Homo sapiens: one gene and its partners. The protein of the gene in region 3 purifies or fractionates together with the protein of the main gene of each other region. This does not show direct contact. Each region holds a gene or a part of one and is shown on either strand. Other genes may lie near its edges. The genes, in order: SNAP29, SPECC1L and PPFIBP2.

The links.
Region 1: the proteins of PPFIBP2 (region 3) and SNAP29 purify together in Homo sapiens (co-immunoprecipitation; 2 studies listed by BioGRID and IntAct, with this or other methods). This does not show direct contact.
Region 2: the proteins of PPFIBP2 (region 3) and SPECC1L purify together in Homo sapiens (affinity purification with mass spectrometry; one large-scale study listed by BioGRID and IntAct). This does not show direct contact.

What each region holds. Positions count from the first base shown.
Region 1 is NC_000022.11:20,875,965-20,879,615, reverse strand, and holds part of SNAP29 (synaptosomal-associated protein 29), read right to left. Parts: intron 1-3,651. UniProt on the Homo sapiens protein: SNAREs, soluble N-ethylmaleimide-sensitive factor-attachment protein receptors, are essential proteins for fusion of cellular membranes.
Region 2 is NC_000022.11:24,319,268-24,322,918, reverse strand, and holds part of SPECC1L (cytospin-A), read right to left. Parts: intron 1,632-3,651; coding exon 1-1,631. UniProt on the Homo sapiens protein: Involved in cytokinesis and spindle organization. May play a role in actin cytoskeleton organization and microtubule stabilization and hence required for proper cell adhesion and migration.
Region 3 is NC_000011.10:7,639,415-7,643,065, forward strand, and holds part of PPFIBP2 (liprin-beta-2), read left to right. Parts: intron 1-317; coding exon 318-456; intron 457-1,618; coding exon of another isoform or gene 1,619-1,651; intron 1,652-2,064; coding exon 2,065-2,206; intron 2,207-2,883; coding exon 2,884-3,012; intron 3,013-3,651. UniProt on the Homo sapiens protein: May regulate the disassembly of focal adhesions. Did not bind receptor-like tyrosine phosphatases type 2A.

The DNA of each region.
Region 1 (3,651 bases), on a different chromosome or scaffold from region 3:
CCTTAGCCTCCCAAAGTTCTGGGATTACAGGCATAAGCCACCATGCTTGGCCAATTCTTAAATTGTTTTTTCTTTTTGAGACAGAGTCTTGCTCTGTTGCCCAGGCTGGAGTGCAGTGGCGTGATCTCGATTTACTGCAACCTCCATCTCCCGGGTTCAAGCTATTCTTCTGCCTCAGCCTCCTGAGTAGCTGGGATTACAGGTGCCTACTCAAGTGATCCCCCTGCCTCAGCCTCCAAAAGTGCCAGGATTACAGCCATGCAGGCATGAGCCACTGTGTCCAGCCTATTACTTTTTTTTTTTTTTTTTGAGATGGAGTCTCACTCTGTTGCCCAGGCTGGAGTGCAGTGGCACGATCTCGGCTCACTGCAACCTCTGCTGACCAGGTTTACACCATTCTCCTGTCTCAGCCTCCTGAGTAGCTGGGACTACAGGCGCCCACTACCACGCCCGGCTAATTTTTTGTATTTTTAGTGGAGACGGGGTTTCACCGTGTTAGCCGGAATGGTCTCGATCTCCTGACCTCGTGATCCGCCCACCTTGGCCTCCCAAAGTGCTGGGATTACAGGCGTGAGCCACTGCACCCGGCCACTGTTTTTATATTTTAAATTTTGTCACTAAAAAGTTGTGAAAGTATGTTTTTTTCTCATCACGTAAGTCCCTATAAAATATCTTTGATTTTGCTCCGTGGCCTAGTTTGCTGACTCTGGCTGTAGACAGGGATAGCTCTTGCAACTCAAAGTCATTTAGACTATGCCTGATGCCCTGCTGATCCCCGACATCCTGCTGAGCCCCCTAAGGTATGGCAGGTGCCTCCAGCTGGGAGCTGTGCCTCCCCAACAGCCTGCTCTCCTCTATCTCAACAGCAGCCTGACCACTTCGCCAGCCAATCTGGGAATCAGGGTTACTCGCAATTTTTGCCCTCCCCCTGCACAGCGCTACTCCCAGTAATCCAGGCAAAACAAACGCCCTCTTGATCTCCCACCCCCTAAGTAGCCCAGAAACCCAGCCTCTCCTTCTGCCTTGCCTTTTTTTTTTGAGACATAGTCTCGCTCTGTCACCCAGGCTGGAGTGCAGTGGCGTGATCTCCACGCACTGCAAGCTCCGCCTCCTGGGTTCACGCCATTCTCCTGCCTCAGCCTCCCAAGTAGCTGGGACTACAGGCGCCCGCCACCACGCCCGGCTAATTTTTTGTATTTTTAGTACAGGGTTTTTGTATTTTATTTTGTATTTTGTATTTTAGAGACAGGGTTTCACTGTGTTAGCCAGGATGGTCTCGATCTCCTGACCTCATGATCTGCCCGCCTCGGCCTCCCAAAGTGCTGGGATTACAGGCTTGAGCCACCGTGCCCGGCCTGCCTTGCTTTTCTTTACCTTTAACAAGGATTATGGCAATGCCTCTCAATTCAATTCCCTCCCTTCCAATCCTTACTCCCCATGGGTGCTGCGCATCTTTCTAAAGCAATACTGGCAAGCACCTCTTCAGTTAAAGTCTTTAATGACTCCCAACTTGCAAGAGCAAGTCCAGACTCCCGCAAGCTAAGGGTTTTGCAGGCCCAGGGCTCCAGCTATGGGTAGAATGCAGCAGAGCCTGGTGAATGGAAGGATTTAACACTCCAGGATTTCACCCCACGGAAGCTGTGACTGAAAGTCTAGAACACAGAACTGGCTCCTCTAAGCACCACTGTGGGCAGTGCATTGCCATGCTGGGAGTAGGAAGAGACACTTGGCTTCTGAGTCTGCCTGGCCACCTTTCAGCCTGCACATCTCAACGCTGGCTTTATTCTTTCTATGTGCCATCACATATATACTGGTAATACATAAATGAGGAAAACAATGGTTTCTTTGTGAAAAATGGCTCCCCCACAAAGAAAGCCAATTTTTTTCTTTTTCTTTTTTTGAGACGGAGTCTAGCTCTGTCTCCCAGGCTGGAGTGCAGGGGCATGACCTCGGCTCACTGCAACCTCCACCTCCCTGGTTCAAGAGATTCTCCTGCTTCAGCCTCCTGAGTAGCTGGGATTATAGGTGAGCGCCACTACGCCCGGCTAATTTTTTTTTTTAGAGGGAGTTCTGCTCTTGTTGCCCAGGCTGGGGTACAATGGTGCGATCTTGGCTTACTGCAACCTCTGCCTCCCTGGTTCAAGCGATTCTCCTGCCTCAGCCTCCCAAGTAGCTGAGATTACAGGTGTGTGCCACCTTGCTTGGCTCATTTTGTATTTTTAGTAGAGACAGGGTTTCTCCATGTTGGTGAGGCTGGTCTCGAACTCCTGACCTCAGGTGATCCACCCTCCTTGGCCTCCCAAAGTGCTGGGATTACAGGCGTGAGCCACCGTGCCAGGCCTGATTTTTGTATTTTTAGTAGAGACAGGGTTTCATCATGTTGGCTAGGCTGGTCTTGAACACCTGACTTTGTGATCCGCCCACCTCAACCTCCAAAGTGCTGGGATTATAGGCGTGAGCCACCACGCTCAGCCAAGAAAGCCAATTTCTAGGGAGACTGAGAAAAGTGATAAGACAGTAGAGGTTTAAGAGAGGGTGGTTCCTGGTCAGAAACCAAGTCTTAAATAAGTTAGAGAATTTCAAATTAAGGGTGCATATGTGACAGGAACGCATGAGCTGTAAGTGGAAATGAGAACAAGCAGCTTGGAAAGCTGTCAGCAAGGACAAACAGGGCTTCCCAAGAGACAAAACTTCAGAGAAGGCCGAAGGGTTTGTGTGATAATGATGTACACAGGAAATGCATGACTGAACAGAAGTTTGATAGGAGAAACTTATTTTAAAAGCTTTTGAGGCCGAGGCGGGCAGATCACTAGGTCAGGAGATCGAGACCATCCTGGCTAACATGGTGAAACCCCATCTCTACTAAAAATACAAAAAAAATTTAGCCGGGCGTGGTGGCGGGTGCCTGTAGTCCCAGCTGCTTGGGAAGCTGAGGCAGGAGAATGGCGTGAACGTGGGAGACGGAGCTTGCAGTGAGCCGAGATCACGCCACTGCACTCCAGCCTGGGTGACAGAGCGAGATTCCATCTCAAAAAAAAAAAAAAAAAGCTTTTAAGTGGGCCAGGCACAGTGGCTCATGCCTGCAATCCTAGCACTTTGGGAGGCTGAGGCGGGAAGATCAGTTGAGCCCAGGTGGTTGAGATCAGCCTGGGAGACAAAGTGAGACCTTGTTTCTACAAAAAATACGAAAATTAGCAGTGCATGGTGGCCCATGCATGTAGTCCCAGCTACTTGGGAGGCAGAGGTGGGAGGGTTGCTGGATCCTGGGAGGTGGAGGATACAGTGAGCAGAGACTGCACCACTGCACTCCAGCCTGGGCGACAGAGCGAGACATTGTCTTAAAAAAAAAAAAAAAAAAAAGGCAAAGTTTTTAAGTGACAGTATTCCTGCATTTATGGATTAAAGGTTTTGACAGGATCACAAAAATTTTACTCACAATTTATTGCATTTTTTTTTTTTGAGATGGAGTCTCTGTCGCCCAGGCTGGACTGCAGTGGCTTGATCTTGGCTCACTGCAACCTCCACCTCCCGGGTTCATGCCATTCTCCTGCCTCAGCCTCCCAAGCAGCTGGGACTACAGGTGCCCACCATCACCCCTGGCTAATTTTTTGTATTTTTAGTAGAGACGGGGTTTCACCGTGTTAGCTAGGA
Region 2 (3,651 bases), on a different chromosome or scaffold from region 3:
CTTAGCAATGGCATCCTGTAATCGATTGGCATCATTTCGGGTATGAGCCAGATCTTCCTGCAAGCTACTAGCCAAAGTCTCTGCTTTTTCTTTGTCCAGCCTGACACTCTCCAGGAGGTCCTGAATATCAGATTTGTCTCCAGAGTTATGGATAGAATACAGCTCTGCCACTTTCTGCTTTTCATTCTCCAGCTGAGCCTTCAGGCGATTCATCTCTATCTGGTCACTGGCCACTGTGGCTTTGTATTCCTCTAACGTGGCTGCCAAGGCTGCTTTTCCTTTCTGCTCAGACTCAATAATTCGCTCCATATGGTGACTGCGTTCTTTGAGTGCCCCTATCATTTCTTGAGCTTCCTTATTGTCTTGTTCTGCCATTTTCAAAGTATTGCTTAAATGCTGCTGGACACCAAGAAGCTGCTCCCGTTCAAAACGGGCATTCTCAGCGAGGTCCATGTAACGTTGCTCTAATTCCATATAGCGCCCACTTTTTACATCTTCATCTATGACATAAGAAATGTGATGCTCATCTAGAAGAGAGCGGAAGTATTCAATCTGTCGACTAAAGTGTTCCAACTTATCGCTCTGCTGACATAAAGACTCCATCAGAATAACCTTCTCTTCTCCAAGCCTTTCGTTTTCACTATTCAGTTCCTGGGTAATCTGCTGTAAATCAGCTAGCTCTTGCAGGGTTGCCTGGAGTTCCTCACTTGTACTGTGTTGGTTCTCTTCCATCTGGTGTATCCGTTCAGTCAGGCAAGCCACGGACACTTCACTGGCATTCCCGCTGCTCCCCTTCCGGGAGCGCTCTATGCTGGGGATGCCTTCCGACTCTGAGGAGGATGGTGCATCCAGCGCATCATCGCTCGATGTGAGGGGCTGGTAGACCTCACTGCACTCACTGTCTAAATTGTCCATGGAGTTACTGTGCTGATGGTCCATTAGTGTATTTTCATCCTGACTCAAGAGATCCTCCACTGAGCCAGGGGCAGAGCCTTCCACTGAAGAAGTCAGAGTTCCTCCTCCATCGCTCTGGTTACCAGGGGTGATTTCTGGGCTCAGGGACTGATAGCCAAACAGTTTTTCAGAATTGTCTAACCTCTGCTCTAGGGAAAAGCCCAATGCATTCAACCTGTCCTTTAACATTCTGTTTTCATTTTTCAGCTGGTTGAGTTCTTCACGGATGGCAGTATTCTGTTCCTGCAACTGCAATAAAGTGGACTCCACATCAGTCGGCTGGTGAGCCATAATAGTTTCCTTCTCAGATTTTTCATCACCCTCAGAATGATCCTCATTAATGCCCAGCTGGGCACGCATGTCTCGCAGTTCATTTCTCAAATGTAAAATTTCTACGTCTTTGGTTTTTGCCAGCGTGAGAAGATCCTTCACTTTGGCCTCCAAAGCAGCTCTGTCACTGATCTGATTGTCTGACTTAGACTTGCTCATACGAACGTCACATTCTGTAGCAGTTCGACTGCGGGAACGTTTGGCCAATGCCATGTCATTAGCTCCCTGACCTGCAGAAGGTAGTTTTTTGCTCTGGTTTAATCGGGTACGTTCACGTAATCTTTCTCTAGTAGAACTGGATTCTTTATTACCTGTAGAAGTGCTCCGCTTGGTTGAAGAAGCTGTGCCTATGTGTTTAATACAAAAAATGTAAGGCAAAAATGTCAGCAATAAAAGGCTACATAGAATACACAGTTCCTGCCCCAGGTGTAATGAGATGAAATCCAGGATCTACACAATGATTTAGATCTACAATAATCTTGCCTTAGAGTCTGTTAAAGTTCAATTTCTTCAAAACCAGAAGATCATTCATCTTTTAATTATCAAGGAGAAATAAGTTATACACTTTGTTTTACATGTTTTTAAAAGAGTAAATTTTATGGAATGTGAATTACATTTCTACAAAGCTGTTATTTAAATGATATACATTAACTTGAATCCAGAAGTGGGGTTTTAACCAGTTGGCCAGAGGCATAATATTCTAGGGCAAGACAGGTGAAGATGACTCCAGGATTAGCCAGTCGGTGGTAAACTAACTGTACACAGATAGTGAAGGGAGATCATAGGTGGGCAAGAAGGGAAAAGCAGTCTCTGGGAAAACCAAAAATCTAAGCTACCTACTAGAAACACAAAAATTTTACTCTGACCAAAGTAAATGCAAAATAGTTTTAACACCATAAAATGCCACATAAATAATAACAATTATAACAATAGCTAACACATACCTAGCACTTGGTTATACAAATACATTAACACTTCACATACATTAACTTATATAAGCCTCATTAAAGACGTGAGGTAGGTGCTATTATCACCTTGTTTTACAGATGAAGAAACTCAGACACAGATGTTAAATAATTTGCCAACATGTCACAGGTAATAAATAGATGAGCCAAAATTGAAACCCAGGCAGTCTGGTTCCAGATTTTGCACCTTAACCAGTATGTTATACTGTCTCTCTAAATGTAAAAAACAACGAAGCACTAATGTTAAATAATGATGATGCGTCAATCAAATCTACGTGAATCACATGATTACTTAACTACTAAAATTTTAAACCTGTGAAAACTGACACAATCATTTGTTTAATACAAAAAGAACAGGAAGTTTTTTTTGTTCGTTTTTTTGGTTTTTTTTGAGATGGAGTCTCTCTTGACCATCACCCAGGCTATAGTGCAGTGGAGCGATTTCGGCTCACTGCAACCTCTGACTCCCAGGTTCAAGCGATTCTCCTTCCTAGGCCTCCCAAGTAGCTGGGATTACAGGAGCGTGCCACCATGCCTGGCTAATTTTTTTGTATTTTTAGTAGAGATAGGGTTTCACCATGTTGGCCAGGCTGGTCTCAAACTCCTGACCTCAAATGATCTGCCCGCGTCGGTCTCCCAGCGTGCTGGGATTACAGGCGTGAGCCACTGAATTTACAGGCGTGAGCCACCGCACTTACAGGCGTGAGCCACCGCACCTGGCCAGGAATATGTTTAAATACCTGTAAATACTTAAGAAATAACAAATTTTTATGTTAAAAAATAAGATCCACATCTAATCAATAAGTATTTTTAAAGACCCTGCTGGTTCATTAGGTGGTGGGATCCAGGCTGTAGAGGTAACAGGGAGCAAATGATCTCCACAGATAGAGGGAGATAGCCACTAACAGAACAGGTATACAGGAGGATGCGGAATTCAGGCTGGCAAAAAGACAGACAACGAAAGGAAGCAGAAGTGAACATGGCACACAGAAAGGAAAAGTACAGTCACACAGTTAACGGAAGCTGCTGGGGAATGTTCATATAGAGTCCCAAAAGATAGGCAGAATTCAGTGAGTCACACTAAGTCAATAAATGATCCTGAGTAGGAAAGAAATGTAAGGAAAAGTACATTTTATGAAAATTAATCTAGAGGATACTGATATGGTTTGGCTGTGTCCCCACCCAAATCTCATCTTGAACTGTAGTTCCCATAATCCCTATGTGTTTCGGGAGGGACCTGTTGGGAGGTAATTTAATCATGGAAGCAGTTACCCTCACGCTGTTCTCGTGATAGTGAGTTCTCATGACAGCCGATGGTAAGGGGCTTCCCCTTTGCTTGGCTCTCATTCTCCTCCTTCCTGCCACTATGTGGAGAAGAATGTGCCTGCTACCCCTTCCACCA
Region 3 (3,651 bases):
AGTCTCTGAGCACTAGGCCAGACAGCAAAGGCCGCTTTGCAAGACAGCTTCACTTCCTGTTAGAGTCAGTTTCAGTCAGCCCCAGATTTGCACTTGACTCTGTCCCTGTCTTACTGTGTGGCCTTGGGAAAGTTTCTTCCTTCCTTGGAACTCTGGTCCCCTTTCTCGGACTAGCTAAATAATCTTTGAGGGGTGTTCAAGTCACCATATGTGAAAAATGGCTCTTGCAAAACAGGGAGTTGTTCTGTATCCAAGGATTTCCTAACTGAGGCTGACAGTTAAGTCGGTATCTCTCTCTTTCTCTCACCTTCCAATAGGACAGCCCTTTCTTGGCGGAGCACAAATATCCCACTTTACCTGGGAAGCTTTCAGGAGCCACGCCCAATGGAGAGGCTGCCAAATCTCCTCCCACCATCTGCCAGCCTGACGCCACGGGGAGCAGCCTGCTGAGGCTGAGTGAGTGTCCAGCCCTGGTGCTGGTGGCCTCTGAGCAGTGTCCTTGGCACTTTCAATGATTGTATAAGATCCCTGCACCTACCACCACAATCCACAATTGGAGAATGGTGGGGTGGGTGGCTGGAACAAGTTGTACCTTGGGGTGGTCCCACCTCCCCAGAGGCTCCCCCTGGGCGAGCTGTTTTCTAAGGTCAGCACTCTACAGTCTCAGCAAACCAGGGTGTGTGTATCCCCTACTTCTTTTCGGCTGCAGCTTTTCACCCTTATTTCCTCTCTTCTTCTCTTCCTCCTCTCGAACTCTTTCCTGTCCTTCCTAGCATTGTTTTCCCTCCTCTCAGACACCCCCTTCTACCCTTCCTGCCCCTGGTGCTTCCTTCCTCTGTCATTCTGATCTTCTCTCTCCTGTCTCCACCTTCTTCTCTGCAGCTTCCCTATTCCCCGTAGGAGGGTATCATGCACTCCAAGTGGGAGCATTTCCTTAGGCAAATGAAGTCAGTGGCCAATGGGCAAGGGTGTCGGTCTGCAGGTATCCTTTCGGTGCGTAAGACCTGAAACCACAGAGGCTTTTGCTGCTTTTCATTCAAAATAAGCCATCTTTCCCCACCAGCAGCAAAAGATTCAATGGCCCCGGAAGGGAACATTCTGGTCCTGGCAGGGTTCTTCCTGAGGCTCCTCAGCCTCAGCTCTTCCCTGAGCTGGCCCATGCATTGGCCTAGTGAAGGCCAGCTCTGCCGTTGGCTGCAGGAACTTCAGATAAACCCTTGAATGAGTGTGTTCTAGTGACACTCAAACTGGACTCACTATGGCTTCAGATTGTTCTAGTCTGAGCTGAGTGAGCCCAGGCACCTGCACAAGAGCTGCCTGTGGCCTGGAGTATTCAGCCCCTGCTGCTGTCCCTTCCTTTCCCTGGGTGTGGACACCTCAGCCTGTCACAAAGGGGCCCCAGGAACACTTGGTCCCCTCACATGAAACCTCTTCTCAGTGTCAGTCACCACTCACCCCCTCCTTCTCCATGGGATTATTTTTCTTTCTGTTTGAGTTTTTCTCTCTTGCTCGATGACACTCTTTTGTTTATTTCTTTGCTTCCCCGTAACTCTGTTGGGCTGGACTTTGGCCTCTCTTGTTTCTTCATGTGGCTTCTCTGCTTCTTGGTTCACTGGAGATCGTGGCCGGAGTGTCAGTGCCCCCGTATTAGGTACTGTACCCATTCCAGGTGAGGTGGAGAGTGAGAATGCCTTTGTTTCCCTACCCTAACCCTCCCCTTCACCAGCACTCAGCCAGGGACCCACTACTGCCTGCGTTCCTGCATCTCCCTCTGAGGAAAAAGAAGCTGCTTGTTGGAATAATCCACAAGTACTTTGGACCCCAAATCCTTAAAATTAAAGACATTAGCTCACCTAGATTTGAAATATTGAGCACACTAATTTCTCAGCAAGGAAGCCTGGAGTCCCCACTAGTCTCTGGGATCTTGGTATGGAGTTCTGCCCTGAAGGCAGAACTGGGCAGATTCTCTGGACTCCCACTGAAGGGGAGGGCCCAGGCTTGGGGAAGAAGGGTTCCAGGGGTCACATCCTTACATTCACATTCATTGCCTTCTTCCAATCTCAGGAGACACAGAAAGTGGCTGGGACGACACTGCTGTGGTCAATGACCTCTCATCCACATCATCGGGCACTGAATCAGGTCCTCAGTCTCCTCTGACACCAGATGGTAAACGGAATCCCAAAGGCATTAAGAAGTTCTGGGGAAAGTAAGTTGGTGCCGTTGATCCTAATTATATTGCTTAGAATTTTTCTTTTTGATTGGGCAAAGAGTCTATGTAAGCCCCTGGTCCAATAGACACTGAAACAGCAGTCAAAACAGAGTGTTCATGTTCAAAGAGAAGAATCTGAGATATTTTCCAGGGCCAAGAGAAGGAGAAGTATGAAAGACACCCATTGAATATATCCAGTTGCCTTTCATGTCATGCATCCTAAGCACCCACCCATTCCACACACCCTGAACATAATCTCTGCAGCTTATATTACATTGGATCTGGCACAGACACAGATGAGACTGTATTCTCCCTTCTTAGGAGTCAGTCTGTTTTAAGAAATCTTTGAAAAACCTTTGAAAGCCAAGTACTTGCTGGCCCAACTGATCCACTTTGTGACATGAGGCAGAAACTGGGGCCTCCTACAAGGCATCAAACTTTGCTTTGACTTCTATGGCAAGTGACCAAATCCCAGAGGCAGGATCCGAATTGAGGCTTGAGTCTGGCCAAGGAGCTGCGACAGGTTGTGATCCTTGATCTCTGGGAAGGTACGGAGAAGCAGTGCTGCCGAGAGTCCCTGTGCTGGCCTGCATGGCCTTGCAAAAGAGGAAGCACAGTGACTGTAGGCTTTCTGACTATTCCATGACCGTCTCCATGGATTCTTCTCCATGCAGAATCCGAAGAACTCAGTCAGGAAATTTCTACACTGACACGCTGGGGATGGCAGAGTTTCGACGAGGTGGGCTCCGGGCAACCGCAGGGCCAAGACTCTCTAGGACCAGGGACTCCAAGGGACAGAAAAGGTAAGGCTTGACCCACTTTCCTTTGATCTCCCTGCTCTGAAAAAGAAGTATCTCCCTTCAAACCTGCATGGGTGAATCTTTACTCCTGTGTTTTGCGGAAACCCCTTTCCATATTCTCTTCCCCAGTCAAGCAGTCCCTACAGTACGTCATTTCCAGCACAATATCTCCTAAGTTCTGAGTTACTCAGCCAAGATCAGTACTCCTGGAGGTCTTCCACAGGATTGGAATGTGACATTTTATATCTAACCAAAAGGCAAAAAGTAAGCTGTAACTCTCTTCAGTTTAGTCACCTCAAGATTGCCATATACCAATGCAGAGTACAGGTAATTACTGGTTATGATATGTATCATTCAGATGTCCGTTCTCAGAAATAATATAGTCTAGATTCCAATTAAGGAAGAAAAGCATTTCCCTAAATGCATCATATTGTTTGCAGACCTGCATCCCCTGCGGAAGGGAGTCTTAGCTTATTTTGCACATGGATATGATACTGCACTTCCCTGGCTTGCCAAACAGGTTTCTAGTCTTACCAGGTCCTCCTCGTGCATGAGACCTGGGACCTTTCCAGATCCATTTATTCTTCGATGAGTATCCCCAGACTCCAGGAAGCTTGAAAAGAAGCATGAGAATGTGTAGAC